2 separate regions of the Homo sapiens genome follow, and region 1 is linked to region 2. The links come from fine-mapping of genetic effects on gene expression. A gene starts in region 2. The other region holds a variant in brackets. All regions are shown on one strand. Distances are between the middles of the regions.

Evidence for each region. PIP is the estimated chance that this variant, and not a neighbour inherited with it, causes the effect.
Region 1: its variant is fine-mapped to the expression of C1QTNF7 in ovary (GTEx, PIP 0.98).

What each region holds. Positions count from the first base shown.
Region 1 is chr4:15,368,721-15,377,359 of GRCh38, forward strand. All of the region lies in intron 1 of C1QTNF7-AS1 (C1QTNF7 antisense RNA 1), which reads right to left. It also overlaps a transcript of C1QTNF7 not described here. Among named protein-coding and RNA genes, the nearest start is that of C1QTNF7-AS1, 55 kb to the right of the region's middle. The variant T/C (reference allele first, on the strand shown) is at 4,342.
Region 2 is chr4:15,423,349-15,431,987 of GRCh38, forward strand. C1QTNF7 (C1q and TNF related 7) reads left to right here and starts at 4,685. Exons shown (of 3, transcript NM_031911.5): 1 at 4,685-4,758. It overlaps C1QTNF7-AS1 (C1QTNF7 antisense RNA 1), which reads right to left and starts at 4,566. Exons shown (of 6, transcript NR_125911.1): 1 at 4,481-4,566.

The sequences.
Region 1 (8,639 bases), 55 kb before region 2:
TGCTATTGTGAATAGTGCCGCAATAAACATACGTGTGCATGTGTCTTTATAGCAGCATGATTTATAATCCTTTGGGTATATACCCAGTAATGGGATGGTTAGCCAGGAAACTTGTTAGTCTCACTGGTTGCAAGTAGCAAAGACTTGCAGAGTTCTTTAGGGCAGATGGTTCATTTATTCTGGGAAAGCCAACCAAATGGTGAATGTAAAGCGAAGATCATTTTCTGAAATATGTGGTTTTAAGTTGTTACACTGTCTTGGAGAAAATGATGTAAAAAAGAAAAAAATTGAGTTACAGCCAGGGACCATCTCTGCAGGCTAGGATATTTTGAGAGGAAATATGTCTTAATTAGGAAGGGACAAAGAACATGTCATAGTGTTCATTTCCCTCGGCTTCTTCAGACCAGATTTTGATCGCTTGTGGTTAGTGAGTCAGAGGTAAGGATGAGAAGGGAAAGAAACAAAATATTTTAGCAAAATTTTGAGAGTCTCTGCACACAAGTTGTGCTGATTAAGGCTCAAGTGAGAAAACAGCCCAGAATTAGGGAGAGGCAAGTCTCTCCTTCCTCTGCAGGGAAACCAGCATCACTTTAGATTTTAGAGGGTTTTTAAACATTCTGTTTTCTGATTATTTTGATATATAGGAAGGCTACTTTCATGTATGTATTTTTGTATCTATAAACTCTGTTAAACATATATTATTTCTAATGGCCCTTGTTAAATTTGCTGCATTGTTTAGGTGTATAGTTTTATTATCTTCAAGAATGATAGCTTAGCCTCCTCCTATCCATCAGCTACATCTGTTATTGTTTGTTTCCTGCCTTATCATATATAAATTATTTTACCATTATTTAAGAATGATTTAAAAAGTTTTGCATTTTTAATCTACTACAGTAAGAATGACTTTGAAAACTGAGCAATTAACAGCCCAACGAATAGCTAAAAATCTTTTGTGGTAACTTACATATAATGTAATGATACACTGGGAATGCCTTTGTAATCCTGTGATGAAAACAATGGGAAAGAAGGCCTGTGAAGTTGTATCAGTCAGTGATATTTCAGTTGAATACATTAATGAAGATAATGGAAGGTAAGCACCATAATTTGACTGCAAGACTTCAAATGTGAGATAACACCAAGAAAGTATTAACCACCTCAGTCAGCATTCAGTTAAGAAAATAGCATCAGGTAGAGATTTAAGACAAGAAATTAAAGTCTTAAAGAGCCATTTAAAGAACTGTAAAGAATCTATACATGAGATCATATTGTATTCAACTATACTGAACTATGCAACACACAAGTAAATCTACATAAAAACTGGTAAAAACTGAAGAAGGTCTGTAGTCTGCCTAATACTATTGTACTCATGTCGATTTTTTTTAATTCTATGATTATTATAGTGATATAAGATGTCACCATTTGAAGAGGCTAGGGTATTTTTGTAAATTTTTTTGTAACCTCTTATGAGTCTATAAATATTTCTAAATAAAAAATAATTGTTTAAAAGGGGTTCATGGGACCAACAACTGGCGAAAAAAAGCATTCTGTTTGGCTATAAACTGAGAAGAACAAGCTTGCTGGGAAGCCATAGGAAAGTGTGAGATTCTAGGATCTCACCCAGAAGTTCCTGCAAACCATACATCAGCTGGCTGTTTCCACTCTGTAACTGACACCAAAGAATAATGTTCTCTAATTATTTTGTATCTTTCACAACCCTGTGTGTGCCCTCCTTGGCTGGCTGTAATTAGGAACTCTGCCTACAAGTGATTCTGGGAAATGTAGTTCCAGGCTTCCAGTCTCTGTTCCCTCAGAGAGAGAGAGAGTGGAAAGGGCCAGGGATGGTGCTGAGTTGAAAACATACATCCCAACTCACTCATATTCAACAGATACTATAAACTTACATTCTAGCCTTTGAAAGGAGATTATAAGAAGGAAATTAATCAAAACTTTAGGTTTATAAATAAAAGAAATTTATAAATAGTTCCATTTCCCAGCATGGTTTCTTAGCCTAATATTCTAGTTATCTTCATCCAAAAGAATTTGTAATAAAAATATTTTCGTAGGATTTTTTTCCAGTTTATAAAGCAATTCCACATGTACTCTCTCATTGGCCCTCCAAACAATTTTGAGAAATAGATAATAATGGAAACACTTAAGATTTATCTGATACTTTCATTTCTACTATCACATTTCCTATTGTAACTCACCAACAAAACTAGGCTTCTTGAGGTTCCCTAAACACAACATGCTGTCATTCCGTTTCTTTGCACATGTGGTTCCTTCAACTGAAAATGTCTTTCCCTGGTAGGAATTCCTCCTAGTTCCTACACATCTTCACGCCCTGTCCCGTCAGCTCTTTCTAGGAAGAGACTGAGGCTGTTGGGGTATGAACAGGCAGCTCCATCCTGCAGAGGGCCAGGCTGTGCTGCCCTTGCAGGAACCCAGGCATTGACCAGCAGACAGCAGATGCGACCCAAGATCCGCTCCTCAAGCTGCCTCTCTCCACATTAACAACCTCATTCTTGATTAGCCAAACCTAGCAAAATCGACAGGGGAAGAATGCATTTGGTGGTACACAGAGGGCTTAATAAAGGGGCCTCATTAGACTGTTCTTGGGCGTATGCTTGCTAGTCATACTGCTGCAGAAGAATTTTGAAGGGCCTTTCTTCTACTATTTATTTTCCCCGGCTTGCCCCTGTCTAATCCTCCCTTGCTCCTCTGTAGCTTTTCATGTTAGTGTCCTAATGGCTGGACATATCTTAGTGAGCAAAGCATCCCTGGCTTCAGGGAGCTTACAGACTGGTGAGGGAGACAACCATTATGCAAATTATCTTAGAAATATATACCTATTGCTATAACCACTACAATAATAAAATGACACTTATGACATCCTATGAAAGGAGAAAAAATTATAAAGGGGAAGTGTAGGACAGTATAAGAGAATATAGCGAGGAAGAGCAAGGGTGCGGAGGGTCAGATTAAAGAAAACATCCCGGGGAAGAAGCATGTGAGTTCAGTTTGAACTAATGAAGGGACTTATTAACATGAAGGGGGCTGGGAGGGATGCAGGAAGAGAACATTCCAGGCAAACTCTCTACAGCTGTCAATCTAAGCTCAGTGGGCACATGGAGGGAATCCCCATGGCTTCCTTCTCATGGTGCTCTGGGTAACAATGTCTTGCCTCCAGGCAACTCAATAGGAAAGAGTAGGAAAGGAAAGGAAAGGGTCACAGCTCAGAATCTCGGAGAAAAGAGGAGGTGGAGGCAGAATGTGTCATGAGGGGAGCAGGGTTCTTGTCGTCATGGTTTACATTTGGTCACTGCTGCTTACTAGCTTTGTGACCTTAGAAAAGTCACTACCAAGATATCAATGTTGTTTTGACAATTCAGTGAGGGAAAAAAAAAGGCTCAATAAGTATTCGTTCCCTTCTTTTACTTCCCGCAGGCTTGCTATGGACTGAATTGTGTCACCCCAAAATTCATGTGTTGAAGCTTTAACCCCTATTACGGCTTTATCAGGAGATAGAGGCGTTCATAGCTAATCCAACTTAAATGAGGTCATAGGATGGGTCCATAATCCAATAGGACTATGGTCTCTTAAGAAAAGGAAGAGAAAGATCTCCCTCTGCCCACCATATGAGGACACAGAAGGGAGGCAGCCATCTGCAAGTCAAGAAGAGAAGCCTCACCAGAATCCAACCACGCTGGCACCCAGATCTCAGACTTCCAGACTCCAGAACTGTGAGAAAATACATTTCTGTTGTTTATGCCACCCAGTCTATGGTATTTTGTTATGGCAGCCCAAGCAAGACTCTACTAGAAAATTCTTCTTACAGATGATAGAGTGCAAATCTTAAATAACATTCAAATAATAAATTAATAAAAGGGTAAGATAGTGAATGGAACCATAAAATATGAGTTGGACTTGTGACTTGATCATTTTCAAGGGGGCGCTGATCTTGATTCATTTGATCTTTGTTCATGGCTACTTCAAAAATAAAGACATTCCCATTTGTGTCAAGATACCGTGGATGCCTTTCTGTGTGACTGAACAAAATATTTTCTCTTTGTTCTTCATTCTTAACATTACATGAAAAATGGAAGGACAATTTGAGTCCTAAGAAAGAAAACCAATAGCAGCAAGCATGGGAGACAAGTACCAAGAGGTGGATAACAAGGGAAAAAAGATGAAATACACTCCTAAAAGGAAAAGGGGGAAAAAAAGTCAAGGCAGAACCCAGGAGCCCTGGCACCTAGTGGTGTCAGCCAATGACACAGATGAAATGGGCAATGGTAGTTGCACATCCCGCTGGAAAATACCACTGTCTCAGCCCATTAGTAC[T/C]GCTATAACAAAATACCACAGACTAAGTAATTTATAAACAACAGAAATTTATTTCTGACAGTTCTAGAGGCTGGGATATCCAAGATCAAGGTGCCAACAGGTTTAAGGCCTGGTGAGGGCTCTGTCTCTGCTTCCAAGATGGCACCTTGTTGCTAAGTCCTCCAGAGGGACAAATGCTATGTCCACACATGACAGAAGGGTAGAGGGCAAAAAGGGCTTAGCTATCTCCTTCCAGCCCTTGTACAAGGTCATGAATCCCATTCACGAGAGCCCTGCCATTGTGACCTAATGACCTCCTAAATGCTCCACCTCTTAATATTATCACATTGGATCTTAGGTTCCAACGTATGAATTTGTGGGGAAACACGTATATTCAAACCATGGCAACTACTTTATAGTTTCAAAGCCTAAAACATTGCAAAGCACTATCTTGATAAACACCTCATTTGATTCTAACCACAACAAAATGAGGTAAGTGCAATGGGACAGGGATCACATACCCAGTGAGTCAACTGTGTTTTGGAACGTTTAAATGACTCCACAGGGCTCCCTTGGCTGTTAAGTGTTCCAGGCAGTGGCCAAGCCTTGATTTTCTATTTCTAGATCTAGTGTTCTTTCTGAGGCACATGTTAAGATATGCTGTATATGCTGTATACCCTTTCATCTAATCTTGACCTGGATTTCCAAGGTAAAATTTTCTCCATATTCTATCTCATTTCCTGGCCACTATACTCCTCCTTCTCCATCCAAAAGTCACTCAATGGTTTCTTTCAGTCAGAAAATAACACCGAATGGAAAATGAGAATGGAAAGGAGAAGAGAAGCATGTAAATGGGGCTGTGACGACAAAATTTCATCTTAGGATACAATTGCTTTCATCCTGGACAAAATGCTTTCAGAGAGATTACCACATTGTATGACCAAGCAAGGGTTACTATTACGATTTTCATTCTGCAGCTGTGAAAATCAAGACTCAGAAACATTAAGGGCCATGTCCAGTGATAGGTATCTTAAAAGATCGAGAGTCAGATCTCCAGCCCTTGCATCTGCCTCCACCTCCCTACAGTGGACACAGCACTGGCTTGACAGTCGGCTCTTAGGTTCCTGTCCTTCCACTAACTAGCTGTGTGATGCTGGTCAAGTCTTGTAAGCCCTGGGCATCGTTTCTTTCTACTGTCAACCGAAGGGGCTGGGCTGCTTGGTCTCTAAGAACATCCTGTAAAGTAGCTGATAAGAAAGAAATTGCAACTGCTGGTCTTTGAAGACCAGTCAGAGGTGCCCTGATCTCTCCCAGCACAACAATGAGAAGGTGTTCAGCTAATATCACACTTTTAGAAAAAATATTGTCCAGACTCACTGTGCTATTTCCCAAATATGATTTGGGGAGCGAGCCAACAGATAAAGAAGGATATTTATTTTTGTTTGTAATGTCGACGTCTTCTTTCGGGCTCGATCAAACAATCAGGAGATCTGTGTAGGCCACAGCGTCATTGCACGCCGGGGTCCTTGCCCGCTCCCTCTCTCTGCCACCGCTCAAAGCCTGGGAGAACGCTTTTGAAAGCGAATCAGGAAATTACTTATCAATCTGAAGCCCCAAAGAATTATGAATAATCCTCGCTGCCAAAGGGAAGGGGATTTTGAGCAAAAGCTCCACATCTGCGCACACTAGAGTTCAAAGACTCCAGCTGTTGGAAGGTCTTGTGAGCAATGTAAGTAAACAGCCCTCTCTCCATTGATAAACGTCTTCAGGCTTTTTTTCCTTAGAAAGGCGTCTTTTGGCTCATGTTGGTGTTTCTCTCTCTCTCTCTCTCTTTTTTTTTATGATGTTCAGGGGTGTTTACCGACTGGGGCTTAGTCAATAACACAACTCCTCTGGGGGTTGCTTCTGCTGAACAAGAGAGGGAAAGCGAAAGTCGTCAGAATCGGCTTTGCTTGGGAAGGGTTAGTTTTGAAAAGCCCTTCCTTGCCAATTATGCTCCTTCATAGCTATAGATCCATACTCAAGAGGAGTGTGAGGCTGACACCGACACTCGCGGGGGCAAGCAGAAGTGTCTCTGTAACCCTACTCTGAAAAACAGAATTGTCATCGTGTCCATTCCTACATAATTCACATTGAAGGTGCTTTCTTCATTTTGATACACTGTAGGATTTTAGTAGAGGAAAAAGAAAGCATTAAAGTGAATATTGTTCTGTGGAGATTTCCTTATAGTGGCATAAATTCTGTGTTCAATTTAGCATTCATTAAGGGTGTTGATTTATTTACTGTCTATTTTATTATTAAACGAATGTGCTTACCACTCCACTTGGCCATGGGAGGATAATGCAATCATTGCAATATGGAAGCAGAAATATCTAAATTGTGTTGGTAAAACTATGAGTTTGCATTAATAGTAATTCTATAAATGGAATGCATAATTTCATAAATGATGCATTGTACTGGGGTACATTTCTTTTATAAGTATTTCAAATCAAATTGTGGGTAATGACTGGGAAGTAGTTAAAAGAAATACAACAAACTTGAACGGAATCGTTTTGTTTGGATCAGCCTTTGTCCTCAGGAACTTGAATGTCCATTTTGCAAGTCCCTCATCATGAATTCTATGGCTGCAAGGAACATATGTCCCGAGTCCTCACACTCTGTCTTATCATCAGACTATGTATCTCCCAATTTGTTCTGATTCATGATTTCAATAAGACCCCACACCCTCAGCCTGGGTTGTGTTCCCCCAACTCACTGGAAAGCTCCTCCAAAATAAATAATAATTGCCCTTAACTCTAGTTGACATCTGACTTCCTTTCCTCTCTTTGAGTAATTTTGGTGTGTACTTCCACATCCTGTACTGTTAAGACGGGTTTCATTTCCAGTATGTCAGTCATTGTCAGCACACACATAAGCTGCTTCCAAGAGTCGAAAGGCTCTAGGTTACTGTACATTTATAACAGCAATTTTCTATGTAGCCCTTTCTCAAGCAACTCATCTATACTTTTATTCTAAGGTGATCTGTAACCTTTCACCTTTACCTAATAAACAGATAGTATGTGCCTAATGTGCTGAAAGCAATAAAAACCAAATGTGACACAATGTTCCCCTTCTTGTATAAACATGTCTGTAGTTTTTATGCAGCCCAAGTGCACTTTTGTGTTCACGGGCAATAGCTAAATAGGGTTGAACACTGACTGTCTGAGCTGTGCAGTGGACTGCGTAACGAAATAGAAGGATGAAGTTTGTAATGTGAAAGTAAGTTATTCAAATTTGGGGAAATATTTACTGAGCATTTGTCGTGTGCTGGGCCCTTCCTAAACATGCCTTGTGCACTCGTGGGAGCAGCAGGCTCACTAGTAAGGTGTAGAGACTCTGAAGCAGAGTTCCTGGAGACACAAACCAGATTGGCATCTGTGTGAATCTGGGTTGGGTTACTTAACTCCTCTGTGCCTCAGTTCCCTTACAATAAAATAGAGCTCATAACAGCAGGGTTCATGTAAAGTTTGAGAGTTGATATAGACAAAGTATTGTTTTTGTCTCTTTCATATATGAGAAAACCAAGGCTAGCGAGGTTTACTTGCCTACAATTACACAGGTAATGATGGCTGGCAGGGCTGGGATTTGGAAGTAAATGAGTGTTTTAATCATAATAGAGAAAGTCCACATTTTAAACCACAGCCTCCTGCCCTTTTGTTGTTGGATTCTTTCTTCTGCATTCCTTTATCCAGTTCTTACAATGGCCTTCTAAATAAACATTATTGACTGTGATGATTTCAGACGAGTAAACTGAAGCTCAAAGACATGAAGTGACTCATCCAAAGTCACATACCTAGAAATTAGCAGCACTGATGTCTGAACACAGGTTTTCAAATTCCAAGTTTTGTGCATATTTTTTCTTTCTCTTGCCAATCTGTGAATGAATGGGTCAGGCCCACACCTGCCCTTTGGGGAAGAGTGAAATAAATAACAATGCTAATGGTCACCATCAATTAAGCCCTCACTCTGTGCTTGGCACAGAATCTCTTTAATTAAAGTAGGTCCCTGTGCCCCTTTGTTAATAAATTATCTAGATGATTCTGGTATATACTAAAGTTTGACAGTTCTATAATCTGGGACAAAATGGAAATTGTTATATCCAATATGACCTAACCTGAAGAAGGTGAAAAGTCCTGATAGAGATGAGAAATTTGACATTTTCCCCAACTCAAATTTGTGGATTACCCTGTGGTCAGAATCAACACTATTTCAGGGTTATTTCCTATCTTGTTGATACCCCCGTGCTTTCTTCAACTTTTGGCCCATGTCATCTGAACTTT
Region 2 (8,639 bases):
GTGCCTGGCACACACAGGGGTCAATGACATTTGTTCATTCCATGAGTCACTGAATTGCCTTTTTTAAATATGCAAACTCCTTTTCTCATAAGAACCCACCTCTTTCCCTGCAATGAAAGCAGATTCAGTTTAGAAACCAAACTGAGTCATTTCAGCTGGTTGAAGTCCGCTTGAAAAGCCAGGAAAGCGGCAGCAGGCACCACCTCTACCTGGTCAACAGCCTGGTTCATGAAATCCCACTCACAGCCCTTCTGAGGAACCTACTGACCCCAGGATAAGGACCAAAACCTCCCGTGGCCAACAGAGCCCCGCCTGGCCCAGGCACATCCTCCCTGCAGGCTTATGCCTGCCTTTGCTCTTTCCCACTGGCCTCCACTCAGCATCATCCTCTTCCACCTCAGGGCCTTTGCATATGACATTCTCTCAGCCTGGATGTGTTTTCCTGCCCTTCTGCCAGGTTCATGCCTACCGTTTCCCCCCCTTTTAGGTCAGATGTCATTCCTTTAGGCAAGTTCTCTCTTATTTAGGCAAGTTCTTTAGGCAAGATTCAACTGGGTTGTCCGGCTAAACACTCCACAATATCCTTTATTTTTTTCCTTCAAGCATTCTCCAAAACTTATTGAGTTTATCAAATGGTATTAACTGTCCTTAATATGAAATGAATAAAAAATAACCTCATTTTTCTTCCATCATTTGTTCTAGCCAAATTCTGTTGGATCTTTCTTCCCTGCCCTTTTATGACATCTCAGGCAAATTTCTTGGCTTTCTGGTAACTTCCAGTTACATGAACAATTTTATTAGTCAATTGTGACTCATTTTCAGATATTAAAAAGACAAATCTCAATCAAATTTTCTATTTTATATCCAATACAATACTTGTCCATCTCCATGGCTGTAGTTCAGGATATGCTGTACCCTTTCACTCTTCCCCCATCTCCTGCCACTTCCTTTCACTTTCAGCTCCTCTTGAGTCAGGTCAGAGAGTAGAATAATCAGGAAAAAAGTGACTGAATTATTCTTACTTAGTAAGTGCTACTTGTATGATCCTCTCCTGGCTCCAATGTCTGCTATGCACTCCAGGTAGCCAAATGCTGGCTCTTTCGGGGTGAAGGTGTTCCTTGGTTGATAGCTTGCAGTGCTCCCCCCACCAGCCTCAGATTCTGTACTCAGTGATACACCCAGTGACTTCTTAGTGGCCTCCCCCCACTAGGAGGACTCCTTGGCTCAGGAAGTCCCATCACGATGGCCCCACTCAGCTGCCTTCCTCAGTACCATCTCCCTCTTGGGGAGTGCATATATTCTTGCCTCTCTAACAGCTGCCCCTGCACTCCTCTCCCTTCTCCACAACTCTACCTTGATGCCTCTCTTCAACCACTAATCTTTTCTGAATTTCTAGCTTTCTTTTATGTGGACTGAAAATGGCTGATGGTCACTGTCAGATCCAGCTGGATTTTAACAAGTTCTAAGTCGATGTATGAGCATTGGTTGCCTATCATTCTCTGCTTTGTGTTCTCAGCTGAAATTCCAAGTGGATGGGAATTCCCAATTCATATCCTGTTAAGCACAGTTCTGTGATTATTTCATAAATATCTCTCTTCCTCACTAGATTTTGTCTCTACAAGGTCTCTTTGTTTGCTCTCTACTGAATACCCAGACCAAGCATTCAGCATCTGACATATAGTAGCAGCTAAATAAATAAGTGATGAAGTAATAAATAAAAGAACAGGATGAGACACAAAGAAGACCAGATTTGTATCACTACAACTCCCCGGTTTGTAAGGACAAGCAGATAAGGCATCATTTGAGCAAGAGTAGATAAGGCAAAGATTCCTAGAGCCTGGCTGCCCATTGGAATCACCCATAGAGCTTTTAAAAAATATTAATGCCTAACTTAATCTACTGATATGCTCATTCAGTAGATCTAGTTAAGAGCCAGTGAGCTAAAGTGCATGGCAGATCCAAATTACGTGCTAGAAGGGTTCAGGAGAAGACAGGGTTGTGCCTGCTTGAGAATATCAGGGAGACTTTCTGTAGAAAGTGATGCATACAGAAGATAAATGTGAACAGATGGAGAAAGAGGCATAGGGGAGACATGGTTGGTAATGGCTTGCAGCTACTGGAGATGATATAAGCAAGGCACTGAGGTTACAAAGAGAAGATTCAATTCCTAACAGAACCCAGGGCACCCATGGAGAGGAGGAGGAAGAAACAGAGGGTATGCAACTGCAAGTTGTTTGGATGCAAAAACATGGTCTTTTAAAGTTAGCAACAACCTAGGGAGGAAATATGGTAAGTAGTTAGGTGTGTCAATTGTGGATCAGACTGTCTAAATTACTCATCTGTAGAAGGAGGATAATACAATTACTCACCTCAAGAGGTTATGATGAGGATTAAAGAAAGTGATGCTTGTCATGTCTTAGCACGTTGTACATGCTCATTACATATCAGCTAGAACCTTCTTTTTAAAATACTTCTACCACCTAGAAAAATGGTGTGTGAGTGTGTGTGTATGTATGTGTGTAGTGGTGAGCAGAGCTGGCTTATACCTGCCAGCAAGTGCGAATTCTACAATTCTACATTCTATAACTTTCCAACTCTGCATTCAGTGAAGGTCAGATTGTTAGCTTGAAATTGACCATGGCGGGGGTATTCACTCCAAGAAAACTAACAAAAGCTACAAATCTGAACCTTCTTTTTGAGAGCTAGGTTAGCGGCAAACTGTTAGGTGCTCTGGGAACACTGATGGGATTGGAATGGAATGGAATGAATTCAGTTGAAAAGTAAATAAAGGATATGGGGTAAAAAAGAGCACAAGTTGAGAAAGGAAGATTATCTGCCTAGGAAAGACAAAATAAGACCCCGTCCTTGGGGTGAGTGGCAGGTAAAAATGGAATCTGACTTTTACTCTGAGCCAATACTTCCTTAAGCATATTTTTCTACCCATCACTTCACCACTGCTTCTAAGTGTGAAAATAACTGAGTGAAATAGACACTGACAAGCTTTATCAACATCTGAGGTTCTGAACACTCTCAGAGACATTTTCAAAGGTTCATTCTCTCTGGGAAAAAGAATGAGTTCAGAAAGACACAGATTACAATAAATTATCTGGGATGAAAATAATAAAGAAGAAAAAGAAGAAATTCAATTTTTATTGAAGAACAGAAAAAATACTGTAATACTTTAATGATACAAAAAACCTTATTTTATGTGGTAAGTAACATTAAAGAGAAATTAGAGAAGTTGTGAATGACACAGAAAAGAAAATATGAATATCCACAAATTGTATCAACACTTTAAGGCAGAAAAATAAGAATGCATCTATTCTTTTATTGGTCTACAAATTCATCCACTTCTGAGCTCCCTGGCAGAGACTGGGCTACTCCAAAGCAGACATAATGGAAAAAGCCCACTTAAGAAGTTATCACTTATAAACAAATAAATGAACATATTAAAAGGCTGTATCACCTGAAATTAAGCTTGTAAATGGGTGACATCAGACACCATCATTTGGTTCGAGAATATTAAGAACTATGAGAAACCCTGGAAATAATCAAGGACAACCATCTTATTTTGAAAGTGAGAAAACAGACACAGAGACTTTATCTGATTAAAATCTGACTCTAATTTAGCAATAAGTTATGACTAGCTTCTATGCTCAAGACATTGTTTTGACCATCCTATGATGGCATTAAGATTTTGGAAAGCCAACAAATTCAAAGGACCATTTCCTCCAGTGTGGAGAGTGGATCCCAAAGGCAAAATTAAGCTGGTCAGAACGGGGAGCCCAGCAATCTCGTTGGTCAAGTGTGTGGTCAACATCCACTTCACTAACTCTGGAAACATTCCTTTCAATTAGAGTTCTCATTGCTTGAGAAGAATGAGAGGAAAAGAAAGATAAAAACAAGATTTTTTTCAGTCGTCTAATTTCCATAAATGACATCATAAATTATATATTGCTGTTGCCAAGGAAATATAAGAAATACATAGCAGAAGGAAACAAAGAAATTGATTGCACCATAGACGACTAGTCATATGCTTTGGAGAATCATTCTGCCTTTTGAGATGTTATGATCAGTTCTTTACAGGCACAAAGACATATTAGTTTTCTAAAAATACCCAATCATTTATCCATTCAGCAAAGAACAAAGAAAACAAAATCAGTGCAATTCTCATAACCCTCTTTCTTTGCACAGCACATAGAATGAGGGGCTATTTTCCTGCCATATTTACCAAGAATAGGGACAGTGTTCATTATTCCACAAGACACCATCCTAGGTCCAGAATCTAAAGGCTCTACCTCCAAAACTCTCAAATATAAAATGGCTTTTTTCTCTAAGTTAACAACTAATTTCCAGTCAGTGAGTAATTTTTTTCCTGAAACATTCACTCAGTGGAAAACAAATGAAGAGGGAAAAAATTAAGTAAACAAATCTGAAAAAGAGGCCACAACACACAGAGATGGAGAAGCTCTAAACTTACCACTGAAGGAAAGCAGGCACTTAAAGTTTATCCCAAACAAAACTGTAATTTTAACTGGTCCCCGAGTTGAGCCTCACTCGATGAATGACTTCCAGGGCCTTTGGCTCTTTGGGACTAAACGAGAAAATTATTTTTAGCACAACTATTTGGAAATCTTTGAGAATTTGGATCTGTTATTCTGTCTGGTACCAAAGCAAGTTTTTCACTGAGCTCTCATGAAAGATCCTCAGTCTCTTGTGGATTTAGAATCCTGCAGCAGCCCACCATCTAAGAGCAAGGTATGGTGTTTACTCTTTTTTTTAGAATTTTGGCAAATGTAGATGCAATGGCCTGTTCTCGTGACGGGAGCTTTTTAGCTTATTAAACAGATGGCTCTGTAGGAAGAATCCATAAAACTGAAGACCTAGCTTCAAGTCTCTGGACTGACACTAGCTTTCTAACCATAGACAAGTTGCGGGACTTCTCAGGACCTTGGTTCCCCATCTAACCTACCACAAGATGGTTTTGGGGAGGACGATATGGGCTTAGCATTGCTCTCTAGGATATAAAATGTTTTGCAAATGTCAGGGTTTTTTTTAATCACTGTGCCATAAAGTAGTCAAAACTTTATCAATAATGAACTGTTGACAATAATAAATATTGATGAATTTTTTTTTCTTCATTGAGCCTCTACTGTAGACTAGTCTCTGTCCTAGAGTTTGCATTTTAGTGGGGAAACAAGCAAGTCAATAGATAGCCATAACACAGTGCAATTGTGTGGCCTTGCAGGGACTTGAGTAGTGCCAGGAGGAGAAGGAGGTTAATTCATGGCAAACAGGAAAAGCAGTTCTGCAGAGGAAAATTGGAGCCCCCAAAAGCAAAGAACTGGTGAACAACAACATAAAAGGAACTGAGGCATGAGCAGCTCAGGTCTCCATCCTGTCCCAATCACAGTGCCACTCCCAGTGCAACAAGAGAAACACAGAGCTTGCTGTTGTGAAATCTCCACCTCTGCAGGCCAAGAAAATGTCCCGTTTTGGCTTTTCCTGGTTACCTATTCTCTTCTTAATGATTTCCAGGCAAAGCACATTTTCAACTTGAATTAATTATCAAGTCCAGCCCTTTGTCATGAAGTAATATGTTATAGTTTCCCTCACATGATGTAGGGACAAACTCAAGTGTTTGAAGACAAAAGAACTCAGTACAAATTCTGGCTGCACCATTTCATGCCTGTGTGGACTTGAGCCCACAGAGTATCAATGTTCTTACTTATAAAGTGAAGGTAATAGCACTTACTTCATAACAAGTGGTGTGAGGATAAAGTAAAAGATGTCCTTAAAACACCTGGCACAGAAATAAGAATACTGGGCTCTCCCTGCATTCCAATTCATTTTTATTCAGTTTTTTTAATTATGGTAAAATATACATATCATAAAATTTACCATTTCAACCATTCTTATGTGTACGGTTCTGCAGCATTAAATACATTCATTTTGTTATGCAGTATCATCACCATCTCTCCAGGACTTCTTCGTCTTCCCAAACTGAAACTCTCTATACCCATGAAACCATAAATTCCCATTCCCCTCTTCCCTTCCTCCTCCAACAGTGAGTATTCTACTTTCAGTCTTGATGAATGTGACTACTCTAGGAACTTTGTGTAAGAGGAATCACACAATATTTGTCCTTTTGTGACTGGCTTATTTCACATAATATACTGTCTTCAGGGTTCCTCATGTTGTAGCATGTGTCAGTATCTCCTTTCCTTTTAAGGCTGAAGAAGATTCCATTGTACGTGTAGACCAGGTTTTGTTTATCCATTCACCTTTCCATGGACACTTGGGTTGCTTCCACCTTTTGCCTATTGTGAATAACGCTGCAGATATGGCTATGCAAATATCTGTTTGAGTCCTTGCTGCTACGAACATGCATGTGCAAATATTTGTTTGAGTCCCTGATTTTACTTCTTTTGGATATATGCCCCAAAGTGGAATTGCCATATCATATGGTAATTCTCTTTAATTTTTTTGAGGAATCACTATCCTGTTTTCCACAGGCGCTGCACCATTTTACATTCCCACCACCAACATATTTTATTTTTCCAAGAAAAAAATATACTTGGAGTCTACTTACACTGGGGAAAAAATAATATGCTATTTACAAAGGGATCTCAATCTATGAACATGTTTTCCAGGATTTCAATCTTTGTACTGAGTTAATCAGTATTTCTCCAAGTATTTTCCATGGCTAGTTTAGCGAGAACAAAGGGCTCCATGACTAAATAAATTCACAAAATACTATATACAACATTTCTGCCTCAAATATAAGCACATGAACATGGAGCCTCTTGAATCTAAACTAACACAAATTAAATTTTTTAAATGTGTTTTAAAAACAAAAACCTGTTACTTTGTAATCCCTACAGAAAAATAGGATGGAGGATTATTTATAATTAGCATCCAGGACAGACGTGTTCAAGATTAACAGTATTTCCAGGTTGGGCGTGGCAGCTCACTCTTGAAACCCCAGCACTTTGGGAGGGCGAGGTGGGCAGATCGCTTGAGTTTAGGAGTTCAAGACCAACCTGGGTAACTTGGTGAAACCTCATCTCTCTAAAAAATACAAAAGTTAGCCAGGTGTGGTGGCACACACTTGTAGTCCCAGCTACTCATGAATTCAATTCAATGTTTTAAAGCATATTGTATGTGGAGTGACAGCTAAGGGGTACAGGTTTCTTTTTGGAGTTTTAAAATAGTCTTTAATTGGATTGTGATGTACATTAAGTTGTACACTTTGGTAAATTTTATGGTGTGCAAATTATATCCTTATAAAGCTGTTAAAAATTATTGTAATGTTTATGAAATTGTGACCTACGTGATTTATTCCCAGTCAAAATAATCAAGTTCACTGCAAGGCAGTGGGGGAGTGGGTAAAGAGTGGATTATTCAATAAAAGGAGTTGAAAATATAAAGTTATATCCCTACCTCACACTTTTTATCAGAAACATTCTGATGGAACAAATTTTTAAATGTGAAAAAATGAAACAAAAAAATTGAAAGAAAAGCACAAGGATTCTTTTCAGGACCTTAAAGTGGTGAAGGCCTTCTAAACCCAATAAATTGAACCTCAAAAAATATTTTCATGGTAAAAATATTTTAAAATACATGAGGAAAGACAAAGGACAAACTGGGGGAAATTATTTGCTGCTCATGTCATAAGCCATTTGTAGATTAAGATAGATAGATGATAGATAGATAGATAGATAGATAGATAGATAGATAGATAGATAGATAGATAGATTCATTGCACCATTGCTTATAACAGCAAAAGAAAGAAAATAGTCCAAATACCCATCATAGGAAACTGGTTAAATATTACAAACACATCTATATGATGGATTTTTTTAGCCACTAAATAAAAAAGGACAAGACAGCTCTACACATATAGGTGTCAATACAGAAGCTATAAATACTCATATGGAAACTAAGTGAAAAGGCAACGTACAGAACATTGTATATGGGATGCCAACATGGGGAAGGAGGACACTCAAGAAACTCGCACAGGTGATCAGCTCTAGGGAGGGAACCTGGGTATCCAGAAGACTCAAAGGGAGGTGAAGAAATTGACTTATCGTTGCATACTCTTTTTTCTTTTGAATTTTATGAAATGTACATGTATTCCCTATATAAAAAATTAATTTTAAAATATTTTTAAACACCCTAGACTATGTCAAATTAAAACAACTCAAGTTTTGTATTTGTATTTCTCAAACACTGCAAAAAGGACACATAGGCTCCAGGGAGATTTCTTCAAACCCCACCTCCCTCTTTCTTGTGTAATATTCTCATATTTCATAATTTCTCACCAGTTTTTTTCCCCCACAAAGCTCAAACCTCCCCACAAAATTCTCCTCTTTCTCCAGCCATGTTTTTTGGGTTAAGCCCTGCTGTAAGTGGTTGGACACATCAATGACTTCAACAAAGATCCCTGCCCTCATGTAGCTTACATTCTATCAGGAAAAATATAGATATAAAATAAAGATAGGAATTAGCTACTGAGTTAGAAGTGAAAAGTACAATAAAGAATAGAAAAAATGTAGAGCAGATAAAAGGAAGGTCATGGGCAGAAGAAGGCAGATTGCAGTGTTAAGCACGGTGATAAGGGTTGAACTTAGTGACAA